2 separate regions of the Homo sapiens genome follow, and region 2 is linked to region 1. The links come from fine-mapping of genetic effects on gene expression. A gene starts in region 1. The other region holds a variant in brackets. All regions are shown on one strand. Distances are from middle to middle.

Region 1 (5,384 bases):
AGCCATGGTGCCTGGAGGTATTTCACCATTTAAAAGACTTTAACAAACATCTATATACAATAATTTAAAAAGCTTTATTTACATTAGCACATTGGAGAAGGGTGTGTGTGTGTGTGTGTGTGTGTGTGTGTGTGTGTGTGACAGAGTGAGACTCTGTCGCCCAGGCTGGAGTACAGTGGTGCAATCTTGGCTCACTGCAACCTTCGCCTTTCGGGTTCAAGTGATTCTCCTGCCTCAGCCTCCCCAGTAGCTGGGATCACAGGCCTGTGACCATTCCCACCAGCTAATTTTTGTATTTTTTGCAGAGATGGGGTTTCGCCATGTTGCCCAGGCTGGTCTTGAACTCCTGGCCTCAAGTCATCCACCTGCCTTGGCCTCCCAAAGTGCTGGGATTACAGGCGTGAGCCACTGCACCCAGCCGAGAAATATTCTTTTTTTAAAGAGTGGGGATTGGGCTTAGAATGAGAAACTAAGGTAGAGAGATAAAGTCTCTCTGAATGAGAAAGTACAACTTGTAAAATTCTCCAGGGTTAGAACTGGGGCTGTGTTCATCAACACTGAACATTCTTAAGAATAACCTCTACGTTGTAAGCTCCAGGTTTGTAGATTTTTAAAATTCTTCTTTGCTGTGAAATGCCAGTAGGAGTATTAGTACCAGGAAGTTGCATGTGTGGGCTAAAAAGTGATAAATGATCCTATTGTGGGCAAATATGAAATATTTAGAGAAAAGAATAACACAAATTATACTTGAAAGGTGATAATCTCAGCATAGTTGGTTCAATGCAAGTAAGAGAATCTAGAGGTTACTGTAGACTGCCTTCTCTAGTTTATATGCCCAGTCTGCTAGTGCAGCAAAAGAGGGCAGTAACAAGCTGGATATCATAGGGCAGGTGTTTTAGAAAGAACCTGAAAACATCACTTAGACCTTGAACAAAAGCTGCAGGTGTGTACATGCCTGAAACACTGGATATCTTTATCTCCAGAAGATCATACTAGATATCAGTACATAGTATCTTCTTCTTCTTATATTCTAATGTAGAATATTAGAACCCAGAAGCAGTCTCAGAGTTTGAGAGTGGTAAGTGAGTAAACCAGAAGTATTAGTTTAGCTTGGCTGCAGTTTTATTATACAGTAAAATCAGAATAGGCTAAGCATAGGGATTTAGTTATAGGGACTTAATAGGGAGGATGTGTGTATCTGTGAAGGCCATATAAATGCAACCCAGATAGTTCATCGTCTCTTGCCCCCACTAGTGATACCTAAACCACCTTCCTGCAACGTTCCCTTTTGTTTCCTGCTCTTTCATATTTTCGGGAATCCTCATGAAATTTTTCACCTGTATTTGGGGAAAAGTCCTATGAACTACCAACTACTGATGTTTACTTACCCTTCTCTGTCATCATCAAGCCCCTTTTCTAGGGTACTGCTGAGCACTGACACTTCCTTGGCACCATTAGATTATACTGGGGTATCACTGCAAATGTACTAAAGCCCCCGGGGTACACAGTCTTCAAGGTTCATCGGCAAAGAGGGAGAGAACACATAACCATTTTCCCCTAACATTCTTAGATGGGTACCGAAGCTGTACCTGTACTCAATTTTAGTGGAAATAAACCTTTTAGTTCTTACAGCTCCAGTGGGAAACTGGGGAAACTCTAAAGCAGACCCCGCACTAGGCTTCCCCATAATTTCTTCTCTTTTCAATGCGTGAGGTTCTGCTCCATGGTCAAGCTTCTGGTATCAGATTCCCTCTTTCCCTTAGACAGACTCGTTTTCTCCTGAGAGGCATCTCAGTTGTTCAAGTGACCTGGGGTGTTTTTCCTACAGTTCTAGCAAGGGGGAACGAAGTCCTACACTTTGAGGATGGCATAAGGGTACCATCTACTTAATTTTTTCAAAAAAGTAACAGGTCTCGTGGAAACGCGGGAACGTCACAGAGGACGTGACTTAAACGGAACTTGTAATGGAAATGATTTTCTAAATGAACAATTGCGAGACAAGCAAGGAAACCTCCAGGTTTGCAGATAACTTGATTAAAGCTCTTCCGGGTGGCAAAATGCCAGTGCAATCAATGGTATGAGTAGGGCGGACAGTGGATGAAACTTGTTGAGTAAATCTCAGGAGGAATTAGCACTGGACTTTCAGGTATTCTAACTCAATTCTAACCATTCCATTCTCTGGATCATTGGATAAGGTTCCGCAGGATCCGGGCGCCAGCTCTGGATACATTACTGATCGGGAGAAAATTTTGAATTTTTCTCTTGTCCCTTTCCAGCTTTCCTCAATATAGGATATGAGTTTGTCCTCGACCCCTAACAACATTTAAAGGTAAAGTCGCTCCTAGAAGGCAAAGCGGAGAGGACTTTGCGGCTGTGTTTCTCAAGCCCGTAAAGAGAGAGTAATAATGGTAGGGAGCGTGCAGACTAGCTCTTTCCTTGCCCAATCAAGTGTACAGGAAGATGTCCTTTCACCAATAAAAATAAAGTTCGCTTTCCGGAGGCGGGAGGGTGAGCCTTGACTGCCAGGGCTCCAAAGCAACGTTAGAGGCGAGGGCAGAGAATGATTAGAGGGAAGACCAACCCGGGAAAAGGGGCGGGGAGAAGGTAGGAGCAACTTTGAGCGGCGGCTGGCCAGGCCAGTGGAGGGCGAGGACTGCTGTTCCTGTTGTAGTGTTTCTCGCCAATCAGGAAGGCCAGGGGGCGGGCGGGGTAGGGAAGGGGTGGGAAGACCTCGCAGCACAGCCGGGCGCCCGTCGGGCTCTGGGAGAGAGCGAGAGAGAAATCCGGTTAAAATCAGAGTCGGAGGGAGGTTTAACCACAGATCGGTTCCGATCGGATTATTCCTTAAAGGGGACGCGCCATTGTCAAGAGAACGGAGCCAGGGGCCCGAGGGCGGGGACCGGCGGCGCTGGAGGAGCGAGGCAGCTGTACTAGGACTGGGAACGGGTAGGTGTTGACTGGGGAAAGGCGCTTCATTTTACTTTCTCTTCCAGCCCCGGGGCAGGCGCCGGGATGCCCGCCGCCGGCAGCCCAGCCTGGGCGGGAGACGAGGTCGTCGGCCCTCGCCAGCTGTCCTTCCTGGTGGGCGCCGAGGGAAGGCGGTCCAGGATGGCTGGCAAGCGGCGCGGCGCGGCCCGGGCCGGCGCTCGTAACGGACACCAAACCGCGGCGCAACCCCAGCCTCAACCGAAAGCCCGCCCGAGCTCCGGCGGTTCCGCCGGCAGCGCCGCGCGCCCGTCTCTCCCGCACGTCCCCTTCCCCTCCAGTGCCTGGCTCTTCTCGCGCGCGCCCGGGTACCCCTCGCGCGCCGCCTTCTCGCGCGTCCTGCTCTGGTCGCGCGCCGCCTCGCCACCGACTCGCGGGAGCCGCCCCGCGGGAAGGAAGGCGGTGGCAGAGGTGGAGGAAGACCGGCGACCACGGCTCCGCCGCCTCGGCTGGGAAGGGAGGGCTGAGGAGCAAACTTAGCGCGGCGGCTGGCGGGCCCCGGCGGGCAGGGCTGGCGGGGACCGGCGGAGCGCGCCAGCCCAGCCGGGCATTGTCCGCCTTTTCCCTTGCTCTGGTCTCTCCGCCCACTGCTCGCGGTCCTGGGGAGGGGTGCGGGCGCTGTGCCCGCGCAGCCCCGGGCCGTTGGCGTACCCCGGGACCCGGAGTCTTCCGGAGCCGGAGCCAGCCCTGCGGACACCGCGGCCACCGCCCGCGAGCTGACTCGGCCTGTAGATTGCCTGCTGCTCTCAGCCTCGGCACCGGGCAGGGTGCCTGGGCGCTGAGCTCTTCTTTGCAACTTTTATTTGCCGTTTGATGGAAGTTGTTGCTTCCGGGCGGCAGGTTCTTTGGGCACAGCCTGGTTTCCTGCGTTCTGGAGAGGCTGGTTTCTAGGGCGAAATGATTTATTGCTGCCGGTCTTTCCTGCCATCCTAGTTTAGTTCCTCGCCACCTAAAATCGCATTTTTGTGGATTTGCAATGATATGGGAGCATTAATCTTTCCTAGGCCAAGATTTGAAAAGAAAAAAAAGGGGGTGGGGGTTAGGGTGTGTGCTGGTGAGGAGCAAGAGTTCTTAGTAGAGCTGAGTTTGCCCTTACCTTTGAACTGCGGAAAATATTACTTCGATTCACTGGCTGGGGTTCTTTTGGAAGGGTAGGGGAAAAAAGACACAGCAAGACAGGTTGCCAGGGTCTGTCGGATTGGGGGGGAAAAAGGGTTTTGATGGAAGTAAAGTTGGTTTTATAAAATGCTGTGCTGCCTAGGAGATATCGTCTGTAAAGTTGATTCTGCTACTGAATTTACAGCCATTATAATTAGTACCAACAGCTTTTACTATTGATAAAAACTAGTATAAGACGTCTTTTCATCTTGAGCATTATCACTCTGCTTAATCTGTCAATACTTGCCGAGGAAATCAGAGATAGCACATTCCTTGTTAGAGGCCTTAGTGAAGAATGTTTTCATAAGCATTCATTTTTGACAGTTTCTTCTTGTGCAATACTTTATGTAGAGTACTTGCATGTGCAAGTTACAACCGTATAAACAAAGTAGCAGTGGGTGTGTTATTCTCTGGTCTTTTTTCTGCTACTCATTATCAAAAATAGCATTCCATCGTGTCTTGTCTTCCACTCTGAATTATTTTGTAAAATTAGTTCTCTAAAAGAGGGAATTCTGTTGGAACATGTGACCCAGTTTTTTTTTTTTTTATTAAAGCAGTCCAACTTTTTAAAGCGTTCATCGATTAATTTATTGTCTAGTAACTTCGGAGTGGTGTGGAACATTGTAAATTCACAGGCTCAGCAGTAACAATAGAGAAACTACTTGGGAAATTGGAAGCCAATATCAGATAATGTTTGAAATAAAAATCTATTCTTCTCACAGAATTTAGGAAATAAAGACACACAAAAACAAATTCTTTGGGTTCAAGTGATCCTCCCACCCCAGGCTCCGTAGTAGCCGGGACTACAGGTGGGCACGACTGCGCCTAGCTAAAATTTTTATTTTTTGTAGAGATGGTGGTCTCACTTTTTAATTTTTCGTATAGACGGCTGGTCTCCAACTCCTGGCCTCAAGCGATCCTTCTGCTTTGGCCTCTCAAAGTGCTGGGATTACAGACTGAGCCACCGTGCTTGGCCGTTTGTAGTAATCTTGATGGTATCTGGCATTGTTTCACCTAATATTTCTTCTTTTTTGTTTTTTTCTTTGATCCATTTCTGTGATAAGGATGTCAGGCAAGCAGCTAGGCATAATCTTCCTTCCCATCTCATAATAAAAGGAGACGGTTAAACCAAGTTTTTAAATGTCTGTCTTTGTTTACTTACCAATTTATTTAAACAATAAAAGAATTTCTCAACTTTTAGAAGAGAACATATGAATAAAACATTCAGAAATAATTATCTT
Region 2 (5,384 bases), 260 kb after region 1:
ACATATACATATACAACTCATATACAGCTCATACACATTCATCAGCTCTCGTATACATATACATATACAACTCATACAGATCATACACACTGATCAACTCTCATGTACATATACATATACAACTCATATACAGCTTATACACATTCATCAGCTCTTCTTGTAGGGGTGTTTCCTTTGGCTCTAATAGGTGAGGCGGAGGAATGAAATGTAATGCACTCTCCCGTATCACACTGTTCATTGTCCATGGAAGACCAGTTTGAGGAAGTAAAGTTCCCTCTCCTCAACATGCCTCAGTGCCCCCTGCAGATGTGAGGATGTGACCATGGTGCCTCCAAGTAATGCAAATGCCTTCATGTCAGTTTAGGAGCTGTGTAGGCTCCTATGGAATACTCCACCATTTACATTTTCCCAAAGACACAATTGTACAGGTTCATAGGAACTCAAGAACAGGTATTATTTAGCACCTTTCAGAGCAGTAGCTTTTAAACTTTTTTTTGACACTAATCCACAGTTAATACATTTTACATCACATCCAAGTGTGTGTATATATATATATATATATATATATATATATATACCTTTAAAAATAAAAGTTGCAAGAATATGCATCCAAACTCTATGCTGTGCATACTGATATTTTCTATTCTCTTCCTTTTCATTCTTTTTTTTTTTTTTTCAAAAAGTGTAGGTTACCACCCTAAAATTAGTTTCACACTCATCATTTGAAAAAATATATTGTAGGAAATAGAACAGACTTGCACAACCAAGTAACGGAGTGGAATAGGTTAAAGAGACCTGCTGCCCTACCCAAGGCCAGGAGCAGCTTCTAAACTCTTCTGTAGTTAGTTGCTTTTTTCAGTCCAGAATTTAAATTTCTAAAGGCAGCTCTTGACATTTTTGTAATGGTAAGGTTATTTTTCTTTTTGTTTGCCTCTTGTTTAAAGAGAACTGTAAATGCTTTCAAGTTCATTCAGTGCTCTAAAATGTCAGTGGTAATAAACATGGCTTTTAATAGAACCTTAGAATGGACTAAGGATGTTCATTTGTAGTTCTGTCTTTAATTCAAGTCACAGTAATCAGGGGTGGGGTGGAGCACGCTAATTTATCCCTCATAATTACGCCAAATCAGCGATACACATTTTCTAAAACCTGGATATAGTCTTGTTTAAAACATGGTAATAGGAAATACTTTGATTGCTACAAAACAAACTTAACCACTAATGAAAATTATAATAAAATATCTCCTCACTTTGAAAGCCCACAGTGCATATTCATTCACTCACCAAATATATATTGAGTGCTGTTGCCATTATGTGTTTTGGTACATAATAATATTTGAAATGATATGTTCCAGGAAGGTGGTTTTCAAACTCTGACATGCAGGGCCCTAGGGCTTCCAAGATATCTTCAGAAACAGCCGGGACAGATTCAAAGATCCAATGGGCCAAGTTCCTGGACACCTTCAACCAGAGCAGCTCTGGTTTTCTGTTTTGCACAATTGACTGCCATCTAAAATTTCATTTGAAATAAGTATTCTTCTGCTTTCAAAAAAAAAAAAAAGATTTGAAAACTTCTAATCTGGACAATTCCTGTGTAAAGGGATACAGAAAAAAAAAATCATATTTTGGTAGCCAGCTCAATATAGTTTGTCATATCAGGGCCTAAGAAAAATTGTAGGGATTATATCCTTACAAAAGGAGGAGCAGCTTAGAATAACAGAAACATAACTTATATAAATCCTTAAGTGGGAGAAATTGAAATTTGTCATATTTCCTCTTGACCTTTTAAAATTGGCAACAGTTATGTTTTGATGGCTGTGATCTTGATTTTAAATTATATTTTGTAGCAAAAAATGACCATTGAATTTAGCCAGAGCTATCCTACCAACTGAAATAATTGTGACCTTGTATGTTGTCAAGTGCATGTGGGTATTTAAAGTCAGTTTTTGCATTGTACTAAGTATTAAACCTTTGTAAATCTTGAAGATTTTCTTAAAGTTTGTGTTGCCAAAGTGTATCATAGAAATGTTGTTTTAAGTGTCTGTCTCTGACTTTTTCACAACATATTTTGCATAAAAAAAGATTTGAATCACATGTTGACTTTCTGCACAAAGCTTAATCCAGAGCTTGAATCAGTCTTTGGGTTTGAGAAATCACAAAGAGTTTGCCCCAAAAGTGTAGTGTATATTTAAATGTTTGTCTTCGTTTTTTTCTAATTCTGTGTGTTTTCCTTTTTGCTAACCAGGAGCTGCAGGTAAGTTGCAGCCTGGTGTTATGGATTGTTTATTTGTTGTCATCTGTGATGTATTTGTCTTCTTTGTGGTCTCATTCATGTTTGTGTATTAGAATAGAAATGGCTTAGATAGTAGATTTACTTGGTCCCCAGTAATACAAGATAGAAAGTCAAGAAAATTATTTCGTTAAAACAGGTTGTCAACCAAATAATTTTGATCTTTTTAAATATAAATATTTGATGGTGTGTTAA[C/G]AGTTTAAAGAAATTGAAGGGCTGATTGAAACTCTGCTTTTAATGATGCATTAAGTATTTTTCATCTTGGTATATGTTTTTCTGGTATATTACATTTAGTACATTTAGAAGCATGTATTTGAGGTTTTAGAAATCGTGTCTTGCTTTTCCAGGGTGAAAGTATGGACAATTTCAACTGGGGAGTTCGCAGGCGCTCACTGGACAGTATTGACAAAGGGGACACTCCATCCCTCCAGGAGTACCAGTGCTCTAGTAGCACCCCCAGCCTGAACCTCACCAATCAGGAGGATACAGATGAGTCCTCGGAAGAAGAAGCGGCACTTACAGCAAGCCAGATACTCTCACGCACACAGATGGTATACAATTCACTTTTCTTACAGTGACATTTGGTCTCATTTTCCTCTTAACTTCCAACTTCTTAATGATTATTTCTTGTGCATGGGTGAAATGCACACACTGAAATGAATCTACAAGATTGCAACACTAATGGAGTACCGTGTTGTTATTCATGACAGCACTAAACTTATTAGGTTGATACTGCACACCTATTAGCTGCTAAAATATAATTTCTCTTGCTTCTTTCCTAGTCACAGTGAGTTGTTTTGGGCCCTATTAGAGGCCTTCAGTGATAACATATTTTTGGTATCAATGTGAGCACCAACACCATTTAATTCACCACTCACTTTTCTTTCCTAGTTAGCATAGTGTGGAAAAACAGAGCACAAGTTTGGTCCCTTTCGAGATCAAGTAGAGTCAGTGGAAAATGAAAGCTGCAAGAGTAGCCTGTTATTTCAGAAGAGTACGGGTGCAAGAAAAGCCAGTGGTAGGGCTGGAACTTGAAGATGGCACTGTAAAGAAGGAGAAGGCACATGGAATAGCTACCCTGGTACATGTGATAAGGAAGAAACCAGTGGAGACCAGGCACCAGCTATGGTTACACAGCTCTTACAGGAATGCCTCCTTTTTTTATTCTTTAGGCACAGGGTCTCACACCATCACCCAGGCTGGAGTGCAGTGGCACAACCATAGCTCACTGTATTCTTAAACTCCAGGTCTCAAGTGATCCTCTTGCCTCAGCTTCTCAAGCAGCTAGGACTACAGGTGCATGCCACATATGCACAGCTAATTTTTTTAAATTTTTTGTAGAGATGGGGTCTTGCTATGTGGCCCAGGTTAGTCTTGAACTCCTGGCCTCAAGTGATCCTCCCACCTCGGCCTCCCAAAGTGGCAGGATCACAGGCATGAGCCACCGCACCCAGCCACCTACCTTTAATTTAGATCCATTTGCTCCACTCGGCCTGCTGGTAAAGTGCTGGCAGTGATGTTGAATGGAAGGGCCTGAGCTGCTTTAGGCACAATGTCAAGTTGTCGGTTTGTGGTTGGTGTCCAGTCATCTCTCCTGTATTTACATCTCATTGGTGCCCCAGTTTGTCTTTCCACTAACTGCCCCTCTCCCATTTAAGTGTTCAATGACCAACCGCTGCTGCTAATGGCAGCCATAATACGTTACCACTTACTGACTGTCTACGATGCACCCGGCCCTGTTCAAGGTGTTTTACGTGTATTAGTTACCATAACTCTCCTCCTAACACAAGGCAAGTATGGTTATTGCAGATCTGCATATTACATGTCTTATCCCAGGACACATAGCTAGTAAGTAGATGTGAATCAAGCAGTCTGTCTCTAGTGCCCATTCACTTAACCGTGCCACATAAATCTTCGTCCTCCATGAATGAATATGAATTCAGCTCCAATATGAATTTCAGCTCAAGGTTAACATAGTTACATAGAGCTCTTCCACTTTGATAGTTTTTGTTTAGCAAAATTTAGCCTGTATTAATGTGTACTTAGTTCTACCGAGGGATTAGCTGCTTACCCTAACAACACCCATTCTGGTGTAGACTGGAAGGAAAGAAAGATGATTTTAGGAAATCTCAGAAGCTCTTTATAACGAAGCCCCTAAAATATTTTATGATAGAGAATGTTTCCTGTGGCTTTTGACTCATAAATGAATTCCTTATTTTACTCTTTCTCTTTTTAGTTAAACAGTGATTCTGCCACTGATGAAACAATACCAGACCATCCTGACTTACTTCTCCAGTCTGAAGATTCCACTGGCAGCATCACAACAGAGGAAGTGCTTCAAATCAGGGATGAGACCCCAACTTTGGAGGCTTCTCTAGATAATGCTAACAGCCGGCTGCCTGAGGTGGGGAGAAATGGAGGCTGGTGCATGGCCAATCTGGGCTCTTTTTAGCACTCTTTTATAGCTCCCGCTTTTCTTTCAAAAAAGTTTTGAAGTTGATTTGTTTCCAGTATTTCTAACCTGTTGAGTTATTTTAAATGAAATAGTCAAATCTGATTTTTTCTTAAGTTGGTAGATTAAGGAAATGACCTACAGGTTAAAAATAATCTTGAGTGTTTTTAATGAGCAGTTTGCATTGCAGAACATGATGAGGTTAATGTACAGACGCTTCTCTGGGGTTGGCGAGCATCATCTATTGCACTGTATTTTCTTAGAAGGACCGCTTTGGTTTTTTCTTCTCTTTTTGCTTTGTGTTGGGTTTATGTGATTGGTGCTGTGATTGGGATTAAAACCTCAGGCCAGCTGTGGTTTTTAGCAGTTGTTAAATGAAATCTTTTAAAAAGACTTTGGAACCACTAGTATTATGTTTTTTGGAAAGGCCTGTGAGAAGTAAGCCAGATTTGAAGCTAATGACTGACCAAAAATAAGTAAGTATTAGTGTTTTTTTTAAAGATTATTATACTTTTTAAAAATGTAATTGCTATAGCTCTGCCATATGTGCTTTTTTTATTCCTTGGTAAATATTAGGAAATGCTACATTTTGTCACTGTTCATCAAATTAATGTAGTTATTAGATCTAATCTAGGTATCAGAT

Direction of the effects. Alleles are on the strand shown, and positions count from the first base shown. SD is a standard deviation of normalised expression in the study named.
With allele C in place of G in region 2, the expression in stomach of the gene that starts at base 2,745 in region 1 is lower (moderate effect, 0.55 SD a copy in GTEx).

What was found.
Region 2: its variant is fine-mapped to the expression of FRYL in stomach (GTEx, PIP 0.99).

What each region holds. Positions count from the first base shown.
Region 1 is chr4:48,777,640-48,783,023 of GRCh38, reverse strand. FRYL (FRY like transcription coactivator) reads left to right here and starts at 2,745. Exons shown (of 64, transcript NM_015030.2): 1 at 2,745-2,946. RefSeq lists silencers at 2,700-2,809, 2,900-3,779.
Region 2 is chr4:48,520,357-48,525,740 of GRCh38, reverse strand. FRYL (FRY like transcription coactivator) reads left to right here. Exons shown (of 64, transcript NM_015030.2): 54 at 2,637-2,840; 55 at 4,526-4,693. Among named protein-coding and RNA genes, the nearest start is that of ZAR1, 33 kb to the right of the region's middle. The variant C/G (reference allele first, on the strand shown) is at 2,485.